Regions from separate parts of the Homo sapiens genome. Here region 2 is linked to region 1. The links come from fine-mapping of genetic effects on gene expression. Tissue or cell type: skeletal muscle. Region 1 holds a variant in brackets; the other region holds the start of a gene. All regions are shown on one strand. Distances are from middle to middle.

The links. PIP is the estimated chance that this variant, and not a neighbour inherited with it, causes the effect. A credible set is the group of variants that fine-mapping cannot tell apart.
Region 2: ZNF554 starts here. The variant in region 1 is the best candidate, but not a certain one, in a credible set for the expression of ZNF554 in skeletal muscle (FUSION, PIP 0.64).

Annotation. Positions count from the first base shown.
Region 1 is chr19:2,772,870-2,778,086 of GRCh38, reverse strand. All of the region lies in intron 1 of SGTA (small glutamine rich tetratricopeptide repeat co-chaperone alpha), which reads left to right. Among named protein-coding and RNA genes, the nearest start is that of SGTA, 7.8 kb to the left of the region's middle. The variant G/A (reference allele first, on the strand shown) is at 2,559.
Region 2 is chr19:2,816,578-2,821,794 of GRCh38, reverse strand. It overlaps ZNF554 (zinc finger protein 554), which reads right to left and starts at 1,927. Exons shown (of 5, transcript NM_001102651.2): 1 at 1,671-1,927. The coding sequence starts at 1,723. RefSeq lists an enhancer at 823-1,516 and a silencer at 1,449-1,888.

The sequences.
Region 1 (5,217 bases):
TGTGACCCCCGCCTTCTAGGTTTATGCGGGGACTCAGCCAGGTCTGATTTCTTTTTTTTTTTTTTTTTTTGAGATGACGTCTTGCTTTGTCACCCAGACTGGCGTGCAGTGGTGCGATCTCAGCTCAGTGCAGTCTCCACCTCCCAGGTTCAAGCAACTCTCCTGCCTCAGCCTCCCGAGTAGCTGGGATTACAGGCACCCGCCACCACACCCGGCTAATTTTTGTATTTTTAGTAGAAGCCAGGCTGGTCAGGAACTCCAGACCACTTCAGCCTCCCAAAGTGCTGGGATTATAGGCCTGAGCCACCGCTCCTGGCCCAGGTCTTGTTTCTGCTGCTTGCTGTTGCCTCTTCCAAATCTGAGGTCACCAAGTGAGGTGTGTCTGCCTGGGGATCCTGACCTGATGCCGCCTGTTACAGAATCATTTCCAATGAAACCTCTGAAGAGATGTCGGCACCATTCTCAGCTAAAGACACCTGGTTGGGTGTGACCCTCATCTCAAAGACCCCAGACTTTGAAGAGAAACTCTTTTCTTGAGGCAGGGTCTCACTCTCTTTCCCAGGCTGGAGTGCATTGGTGTGATCACAGCTCACTGCAGCACGGACCTCCTGGGCTCAAGCGATCCTCCTGCCTCAGCCCCTCAAGCAGCTAGGGCTATAGATGTGTGCCACCACACCCAGCTAATTTTTTAATGTTTTGCAGAGATGGGGTCTCCCTATGTTGCCCAGGCTGCTCTTGAATTCCTATGCTCAAGTGATCCCCCCGCTTTGGCCTCCCGAAGTGCTGCTGGGATCACAGGTGTGAGCCACTGCGCCTGGTCTTTTTTTTTTTTTCTGAGATGGAGTTTTGCTCTTATTGCCCAGGCTGGAGTACAGTAGTGCGATCTTGGCTCACGGCAACCTCCACCTCCCGAGTTCAAGTGATTCTCCTGCCTCAGCCTCCCAAGTAGCTGGGATTACAGGCGCGCACCACTACGACCGGCTATTTTTTGTACACTGGGTTTCACCTGTTGGTCAGGCTGGTCTCGAACTCCTGATGTCAGGTGATCCGCCTGCCTCGGCTTCCCAAAGTGTTGGGATTACAGGCATGAGCCACTGTGCCCGACCAGTCTTTCTTTTTTTTTTGAGACGGAGTTTTGCTCTGCCACCCAGGCTGGAGTGCAGTGGCTCTATCGCAGCTCACTGCAGCCTCCACCTCCCGGGTTCAAGCGATTCTCCCGCCTCAGCCTCCTGAGTAGCTGGGACTACAGGTGTGCGCCACCATGATTGGCTAATTTTGTTTGCATTTTTAGTAGAGATGGGGTTTCACCATGTTGGTCTCAAACTCCTGACCTCAGGTGATCCACCTGCCTCTGCCTCCAAAAGTTCTGGGATTACAGGCGTGAGCCACCATGCCAGGCCAAAAATTACCATCTTAATCAGTTATAAATGCACAGTTCAGTGGCTTTAAGCACATTCACACAGCTATGTAGCCATCGCCACCATCATCTCCAGAAGTTTCTCATCTCCCCAGGCTGAAATTCTGTCCCCATGAAACATTCACTCCCCAGCCCCTGGCACCCCCAATTCCACTTTTGGTCTCTGTGAATCCAACGACTCTAGGGACCGCCTAGGAGGGGAGTCACACAGGTTTTGTACCTTTGTTTCTGGCTTATTTCACTGAGTGCGACGTCCTCAAGGTCCGCCCATGTTGTAGCCTGGTCAGGATTTCCTTTTCATGGCTGCGTAGCGTTCCGTCGTGTGGCTAGGCCACATTGTGTTGATCCACTCACCTGTCCGTGGACACTTGGGCTGTTTGCTTTTGGCTATTGTAATGCTGTTGTCAAAACGTGCTTAAAAATAAAACAAAAGAAACTCCGTAAACCAAAAATCTTCACCTTTCGGGTGGCATGTGTCTGTTTTCCTTGGGCTTGGGGGTCAGGAGACCTGACTGGTTTGCTCTCTGAACCCTGTTGGCCGGGGCGGATGACGTCAGCTTTTGTGGTTTCACTTTCTGGTGGTGGTTGACTGCCGTGGGCCCTGATGTGTCGTACATGAGATCTTTGGATTCTGGGACTGGCTGCCCGCCGGCTCTAGGCAGTCCTGATCCCAGACCTCAAAGTTCTGGGCTGTCCATTGTGTCCTGAGATGGGGGCGGAAAACTCATTACCATCCCGCAGGAGCTTTCAGGAAGACCGTAACTCCCTGTCCAGCGACACAAAACACAGCTCTTGTAGATTTCTCCCCCTTTAAAACATTGAGCTGTGATTCCCACACCGCTGTGATCCCCACACCGTGAAATTCAGTGGCATTTGGTGCCTTCACAGGGTTGTGCAACCATCACCACTCTCTGGTTCCAGAGCTGTCTCATCGCCCCAAAAGGGAGCAAGGAAGCTGGTCCCCACCAGCTGTCACTCCCCTTCCCCTCCCCAAGCCCCGGCACCCACGCGTCTCCTTCCTGTCTCTGGATGGGCCTGTCCTGGACATTTCATAGAAATGGAGTCGGTGTCACACCCTGTGTGTGCTTTGGGTCTGGCTCTTTTGCTCTCTGTTTTGTTTTGTTTTTTAATGATTGCTGAT[G/A]GATGTTGCTTTCCCTGAAAGGGAAACAAAGCTGTGGGCACACCCAGTGTGTCTGGGACTATGCTTGTTTAGTGGCGTGGAGGTCCACGTCGCCGGTGTCATCTGAGTCTGACGTCAGCCACTGTTTAAAGCGTGGCGGGCCAATGCCTTGCTTGTCTCTGGCGCGGGGTGGGTTATGCGGTCAGGCAGCCCACGCCTCATTTTCTAGGGGGTGGTGGCTGTTCACCTCATGTAGAGGCATTTTAGGGGAACCAAGACACTGAACGCCTCTGATCTTGAGTGTGGGGGCAGGTCAGGCGCCTGCCGGGCGCGGATCCTGCCGTGCCTGTGGCTCCAGTGGCCTTGAGTGAACACCTCCATCCCCAGTCCTGCCGCATAGGTCACTGCGCCGAGGTCATGAGACGGTGTTGTGTCAAGGGCCTGGTGCACCCACAGGCTCTTCAGGTCCTCCTCTTCTAGTCCAGCTTTCTCCCAGTGGGAGCTGTGGATGTTGAGGCCGGATCATCCTCTGGGATGGAGCCGTCCTGGGCACTCCAGGGCACTGAGCAGCGTCCCTGGCCTCCCCCCACTCCATGTGAGACAACACCAAGTGTCTCAGCACATCCATCGAGAACCGCTGGTCTGGGAGAGAGACAGAATCTGGAGAGACATGCACGCACACACACACATGCGCGCGCACACAGCTTCAGCAAAATCCAGTGGGTCAGTAGAATCCACGGCTTTCCTCAGCATTTGCCTCCTGGAGGAGGCCGGGTATGGTGGCTCACACCTGTGATCCCAGCGCTTTGGGAGGCCAGGGTGGGAGGATTGCTTGAGGCCAGGAGTTTGCCAATGTTCATGGGCAGGTATTTTACATAGTTGACGTTCTAGGTCTGCGAAGTGCTCAGGTAGGTCATCTGCATGGTTTTAATGCTTTTGGTGCCCTGCCTCTGATGCTGTCTACACGGGGATGGTTGTAGGTGAAGGCCTCTGTGTACGCGTGCACGGGTGTTAACCTACGTGTCTCGGGCCATTAGACATCTGTGCACTTAAAGTTAAAATGGACATTTGCATAGACGTGATAGGAAGTGTCGTTTTCTTATAAAAGAAGCTGCCCCTCGGGCAGCTGGCTCCTGGGACCGCAGCACAGTGAGCAACGCGCAGCTGCTCCCTCCCTCCGTGTCCCTCGGCCACCGCCCTTCACTGCTCCCTTCCGTGTGATGACAGCCCGTTTGTTCTCCTGTCTATGTGATCCTGGGCATGCGACCACGCGTCCCTGCCCAACCTGGCTCAGTTCAGCTGGAGACAGGGCCGACCCGCTTGTTGGAGTCGTCACGAGGACTGAGGTGCGTCCTGAGATGCCTGCTTGCCAGGTGTTAGTGTCGGTTTGCTGGGGCCGCGGTGACAGAGTGCCATAGACCAGGCAGCTGAAACAGAGTTCATCGTCTCTCAGTCCTGGAGGCCGGAAGTCCATGATCAAGGTTCTGTCGGGGCTCGTTCCTTGTGAGGACGTGAGGGCAATCTGGTGTCCCTGCCGTGTGGCCGCGTCACCCATCTCTGCCCTCGGTGTCCCTGCCCTGTGGCCGCGTCACCCATCTCTGCCCTCGGAGTCCCTGCCGTGTGGCCGCGTCACCCATCTCTGCCCTCGGAGTCCCTGCCGTGTGGCCGTGTCACCCACCTCTGCCCTCGGTGTCCCTGCCGTGTGGCCGCGTCACCCACCTCTGCCCTCGGTGTCCCTGCCGTGTGGCCGCGTCACCCACCTCTGCCCTCGGTGTCCCCGCCGTGTGGCCGCGTCACCCACCTCTGCCCTCGGTGTCCCCGCCGTGTGGCCGCGTCACCCATCTCTGCCCTCGGTGTCCCTGCCGTGTGGCCGCGTCACCCATCTCTGCCCTCGGTGTCCCTGCCCTGTGGCCGCGTCACCCATCTCTGCCCTCGGAGTCCCTGCCGTGTGGCCGTGTCACCCACCTCTGCCCTCGGTGTCCCTGCCGTGTGGCCGCGTCACCCACCTCTGCCCTCGGTGTCCCTGCCCTGTGGCCGCGTCACCCACCTCTGCCCTCGGTGTCCCTGCCGTGTGGCCGCGTCACCCATCTCTGCCCTCGGTGTCCCTGCCGTGTGGCCGCGTCACCCACCTCTGCCCTCGGAGTCCCTGCCGTGTGGCCGCGTCACCCACCTCTGCCCTCGGTGTCCCTGCCGTGTGGCCGCGTCACCCACCTCTGCCCTCGGTGTCCCCGCCGTGTGGCCGCGTCACCCATCTCTGCCCTCGGTGTCCCTGCCCTGTGGCCGCGTCACCCATCTCTGCCCTCGGTGTCCCTGCCGTGTGGCCGCGTCACCCATCTCTGCCCTCGGTGTCCCTGCCGTGTGGCCGCGTCACCCACCTCTGCCCTCGGAGTCCCTGCCGTGTGGCCGCGTCACCCACCTCTGCCCTCGGTGTCCCTGCCGTGTGGCCGCGTCACCCACCTCTGCCCTCGGTGTCCCTGCCGTGTGGCCGCGTCACCCATCTCTGCCCTCGGTGTCCCTGCCGTGTGGCCGCGTCACCCACCTCTGCCCTCGGAGTCCCTGCCGTGTGGCTGCGTCACCCACCTCTGCCCTCGGTGTCCCTGCCGTGTGGCCGCGTCACCCACCTCTGCCCTCGGTGTCCCTGCCCTGTGGCCGCGTCACCCATTTCTGCCCTCGGTGTCCC
Region 2 (5,217 bases), 44 kb before region 1:
CTACTCGAGAGGCTGAGGCAGAATTGCTTGATCCTGTGGGGTAGAGATTGCAGTGAGCCGAGATCGTGCCACTGCACTCCAGCCAGGTGACAGACCGAGACCCCATCTCAAAAAATAAAAATAAAAACAAAAAAGGAGAAAGAGACACAGGGAAGAAGGCCACATGATGATGCAGGCAGAGCTTGGAGTGATGTGGCCCCAAGCCAAGGGACACCAACTATGGCAGGCCACCCCCAGAAGCTGGAAGAGACAGAGAAGATCCTCCCGCCAGAGCCTTCAGAAGCACCACGGCCCCACCACATCTTCATGTTGGGCTTCTGGCCTCCAGACTTGTGAGAGAATAAATTTCAAGCCTCCCCCTGCCCCCTGGTTTGTGGTGCATTGTCACAGCAGCTCCAGGAGGCTCATGTAAGAACCAAAGGCGCCGGGCGCAGTGGTCACTTTGGGAGGCCGAGGTAGGTGGATCACCTGAGGTCAGGAGTTCGATACCAGCCTGGCTGGCCAACATGGAGAAACTCTGTATCTACTAAAAATATAAAAATTAGCCAGGCGGGGTGGCGTGCACCTGTAATCCCAGCTACTTGGGAGGCTGAGGCAGGAGAATCACTTGAACCCACGAGGTGGATGCAGTGAGCCGAGATCGTGCAACTGCACTCCAGCCTGGGCAATAGGGCGAGACTGTCTCAAGAAAAAAAAAAGAAGAAGAAAAAGAAACCAACCTGTTTGGGTAGGGGAGAGTTCAGGGAGGTTGGGGTTGCTAGAGCAGCAGAAAGGTCAGCTGCCTCCCTCATTCCTCAACATGGGTGGTGGGTATAAACAGAATAGACCCTTGCAGCTGCGCGGTGGCTCACGCCTGTAATCCCAGCACTTTGGGAGGCTGAGGCGGGTGGATCACCTGAGGTGGGAGTTCGAGACCAGCCTGGCCAACATGGTGAAACCCCGTCTCTACTAAAAATGCAAAAATTAGCCGGGCGTGGTGGCATACGCCTGTAATCCCAGCTACTTGGGAGGCTGAGGCAGGACAATGGCTTGAACCCGGGAGGCGGAGGTTGCAGTGAGCCGAGATCATGCCATTGCACTCCAGACTCCGTCTCAAAAAAAAAAAAAAAAGGACCCTTGCTGTCTTATCACCAGGACAGCGGTGCTAACGTATAAGTGAGGTCTCTCCCTCAGGGCGCTGTGGACACTGGAGCCTGGGTCATTCTCTGGGCTGGGCAGGGTGCTGAGTTGCATCCCTGGCCTCCACCTACTCCATGCCAGGAACTGCCCCCAGTTATGACAACCACAGACGTCCCCAGACATCGCCCGGTGTCCCCTGGAGGGCAGGACCGCCCCTCGCTCAGACCCTCTGATGTGGCCTCACTGCAGTGCGAGCGTGGCAGCCCCTCTCTGCCTTTAGGGTAGAGTCAATGCGTCTTCTCCCTCTCCTTGCAGGCTGGGCCTCGGAAAGCTTATGCGTCTCTCACCCAGGGGCGTTTTCACAGGGCAAGGGCAGACCGTGCCATCCTGGGCGTTGGGGCCCTGGGCGAGCTGCCGGCTCCCGACCCTCCCGTGGGGACCCTATCGCGACAGGGTCATGCCCCGGCCACCCGGCCCCGCCAGACCCAGCCCCACCAGAGCCCCGGCAGGCCCGGCACGGAGGTCGCGGCGCGGGAGGCGGCGGCACTTACGGCTGAGCTGCCGGGAGCCGCGCGCGCCGGCCCAGGTGGGCGCAGGTGACCATCGGGGCGCGCGCTGAGGCGCCAGACAGGGCCCCCGAGGCGGGAGCGCCCCGTGCAGGCCGGCCGGCCTCCCCTGCGTGTCCCTGGGACGCCTCCTCCGCTCGGCTCCTCGGCGCTCGGAGCGGACGCCCCCCGCAGGCGCCCCTCAGGAACTCGCCGCAGCCGCCGCCACCAACCCCGACGCGCGCAGAGGTAAACTCGGCACTGCGCCTGCGCACCCCGAACCTGCGAACTACAAGTCCCAGCAGGCCCCGCAGCGCGGCGCTGGGCTCCTGACTCTCCAACCTGGGTCACAGCGCCGCCTCCGGGCGGGCGGCGTCTCCGCAGGACCACGATGCCCCTGCGGCTGTTGGATCCACCCCGTGTGGTTCGCTGGAGTCCCCGGGTGTTGTGGGGTTCGCGGAGCCAATCCTCAAATCCCAGCTCCGTCGTTTCCCGGCGGCTTGCCATTGGATATTAATAACTACTATTATTTATTAAGCAAGTTATATAAACGTATAATGTATTACATACTTATTAAAATGATTGCTTAAGTAATTGTTGTTTGTTTTTGAGACTGAGTTTCGCTCTTGTCGCCCAGGCTGGAGTGCAATGGCATGATCTCAGGTCACTGAAACCTCCGCCCCCTCGGGTTCAAGCGATTATCCTGCCTCAGTCTCCCAAGTAGCTGGGATTACGGGCGTGCACAACCACACTCGGCTAATTTTTTATATTTTTGGTAGCGACGCGGTTTCACCATGTTGGCCAGGCTGGTCTCGAACTCCTGACTTCCAGTGATCTGCCCGCCTTGGCCTCCCAAAGTGCTGGGATTACAGGCGTGAGCCACCACGCCCAGCCAAATTAAATTATTGTTTAAATATTTATTTAATATTCTACTGATTGTTATTTATGAGAAATTAAAATAGTAAAACTACTATAATTAATATACTGTTGTAGGATACAACAAATTCCTCTTCAAAGGTTTTAGCCTGTAAATTGTTAAGTACAATCAGTTATGAGCTCCTCTCCAAAGAACCAATGTTTCCGTATATTCAGCTCCCCTGTTCTTTTTTTTTTTTTTTTTGAGATGGAGTCTCGCTCTGTCGCCCAGGCTGGAGTGCAGCGGCGCGATCTCGGCTCACTGCAAGCTCCGCCTCCCAGGTTCACGCCATTCTCCTGCCTCAGCCTCCCAAGCAGCTGGGACCACAGGCGCCCGCCACCACGCCCGGCTAATTTTTTTGTATTTTTAGTAGAGACGGAGTTTCACCGTGTTAGCCAGGATGGTCTCGATCTCCTGACCTCGTGATCCGCCTGCCTCAGCCTCCCAAAGTGCTGGGATTACAGGCGTGAGCCACCGCGCCCGGCCACCTATTCTTTGTTCTTCATTTTAAACTTTAACTTCCTCGTTCTTTTCGTTTCCTTGCCCCTAGTTTCAGTAAACAACCCCTCCTAGCCCCTATCACCTGCTCTGACCTTAGTCACCCTTGGTCACCTGCTCTGACCTTAGTCATCCTTGGTCACCTGCTCTGACCTTAGTCATCCTTGTCACCTGCTCTGACCTTAGTCATCCTTGGTCACCTGCTCTGACCTTAGTCATCCTTGGTCACCTGCTCTGACCTTAGTCATCCTTGTCACCTGCTCTGACCTTAGTTATCCTTGGTCACCTGCTCTGTTCTTAGTCACCCTTGTCACCTGCTCTGACCTTAGTTATCCTTGGTCACCTGCTCTGTTCTTAGTCACCCTTGTCACCTGCTCTGACCTTAGTTATCCTTGGTCACCTGCTCTGACCTTAGTCATCCTTGGTCACCTGCTCTGTTCTTAGTCACCCTTGTCACCTGCTCTGACCTTAGTTATCCTTGGTCACCTGCTCTGTTCTTAGTCACCCTTGTCACCTGCTCTGACCTTAGTCATCCTTGGTCACCTGCTCTGACCTTAGTTATCCTTGGTCACCTGCTCTGACCTTAGTCACCCTTGTCACCTGCTCTGACCTTAGTTATCCTTGGTCACCTGCTCTGTTCTTAGTCACCCTTGTCACCTGCTCTGACCTTAGTCATCCTTGGTCACCTGCTCTGACCTTAGTCACCCTTGTCACCTGCTCTGACCTTAGTCATCCTTGGTCACCTGCTCTGACCTTAGTTATCCTTGGTCACCTGCTCTGACCTTAGTTATCCTTGGTCACCTGCTCTGTTCTTAGTCACCCTTGTCACCTGCTCTGACCTTAGTCATCCTTGGTCACCTGCTCTGACCTTAGTTATCCTTGGTCACCTGCTCTGACCTTAGTTATCCTTGGTCACCTGCTCTGTTCTTAGTCACCCTTGTCACCTGCTCTGACCTTAGTTATCCTTGGTCACCTGCTCTGTTCTTAGTCACCCTTGTCACCTGCTCTGACCTTAGTTATCCTTGGTCACCTGCTCTGTTCTTAGTCATTCTGAGTCACCTTTTCTGTAGCCGTCCTTCCTGCCAAACTACTCACCCCGCCACTCTGGCTCATACCCCTGCTCTTTAAAACAGCCAATCAGAATCAGCTTAGACTGTGCGGGCCAACCCTAGCCAATAGGGGAACAACACAGCAGTAGGGGTACCTGCGTCAGGGGTAAGAACCCCTTCTCCTCCCTCGTTCAGGTGTGCTCGTTCAGGCGCCGCCAACCCCGACTCGCGCAGAGGCAAACTCGGCATTGCGCCTGCGCACCCTGAGCCTGTGAACTACAAGTCCCAGCAGGCCCCGCAGCGCGGCGCTGGGCTCCACCTGCCAGACGCACCCTTCTATAGAAGTAAAATTGCCGTGCTGAGAAAATTAATGTTCGAGTGCTGTTTCTTTTGTGGCACCGAAAATTTATTTCTAACACTATAAAGGTTCATAATATAGTCTCACTAATTGCATTAGTCAGTTCTCACACCGACTAAGGCAAGGGCCACCACGTCTGACTAAATGTTTGTATTTTTTAGTAGAGACGGGGTTTCCTCATATTGGCCAGGCTGGTCTTGAACTTCTGGCCTCAAGTGATCTGCCTGCCTCAGCCTCCCAAAGTGCTGGAATTACAGGTGTGAGCCACTGTGCCCAGCCAATAAAAACATAAATAATAACTGGGAATTTATAGGCTCACATAACCGCCAAGTTCAGGGGCAGGTCCGGACCCCACCGTAAACTGGGTTGGAGGTGCTTGGACGATGTAGTGGGGTAGCCTTCATCACAGCCGTAGCGTCCTCCGGGTTGGCAGGCCCCACTCCAAGCACCTCCACGTGCCGACAGCATTCCCTCCTCCCAATTTCAAGTTCAGGGAAAAATAAAATTCTCTAATCGTTCAAACCGAGTCAGACTGGAGGACGGCACTGATGTAGGTGCTCCAAAATAGGTCACCAGCCCATCCGCAAACCAACGATGAGAGGTGGCCGGGGGCACAGGATGGCCTTTGGGACAGAGCTCCGTCTCCCTGACCTCCTGAGCTGAGGATGGGGCAAGAGGGAACACACAAGGGCAGTCTGGGGTCTGAAGAGGAGAGCATCACACCGGTCTGGT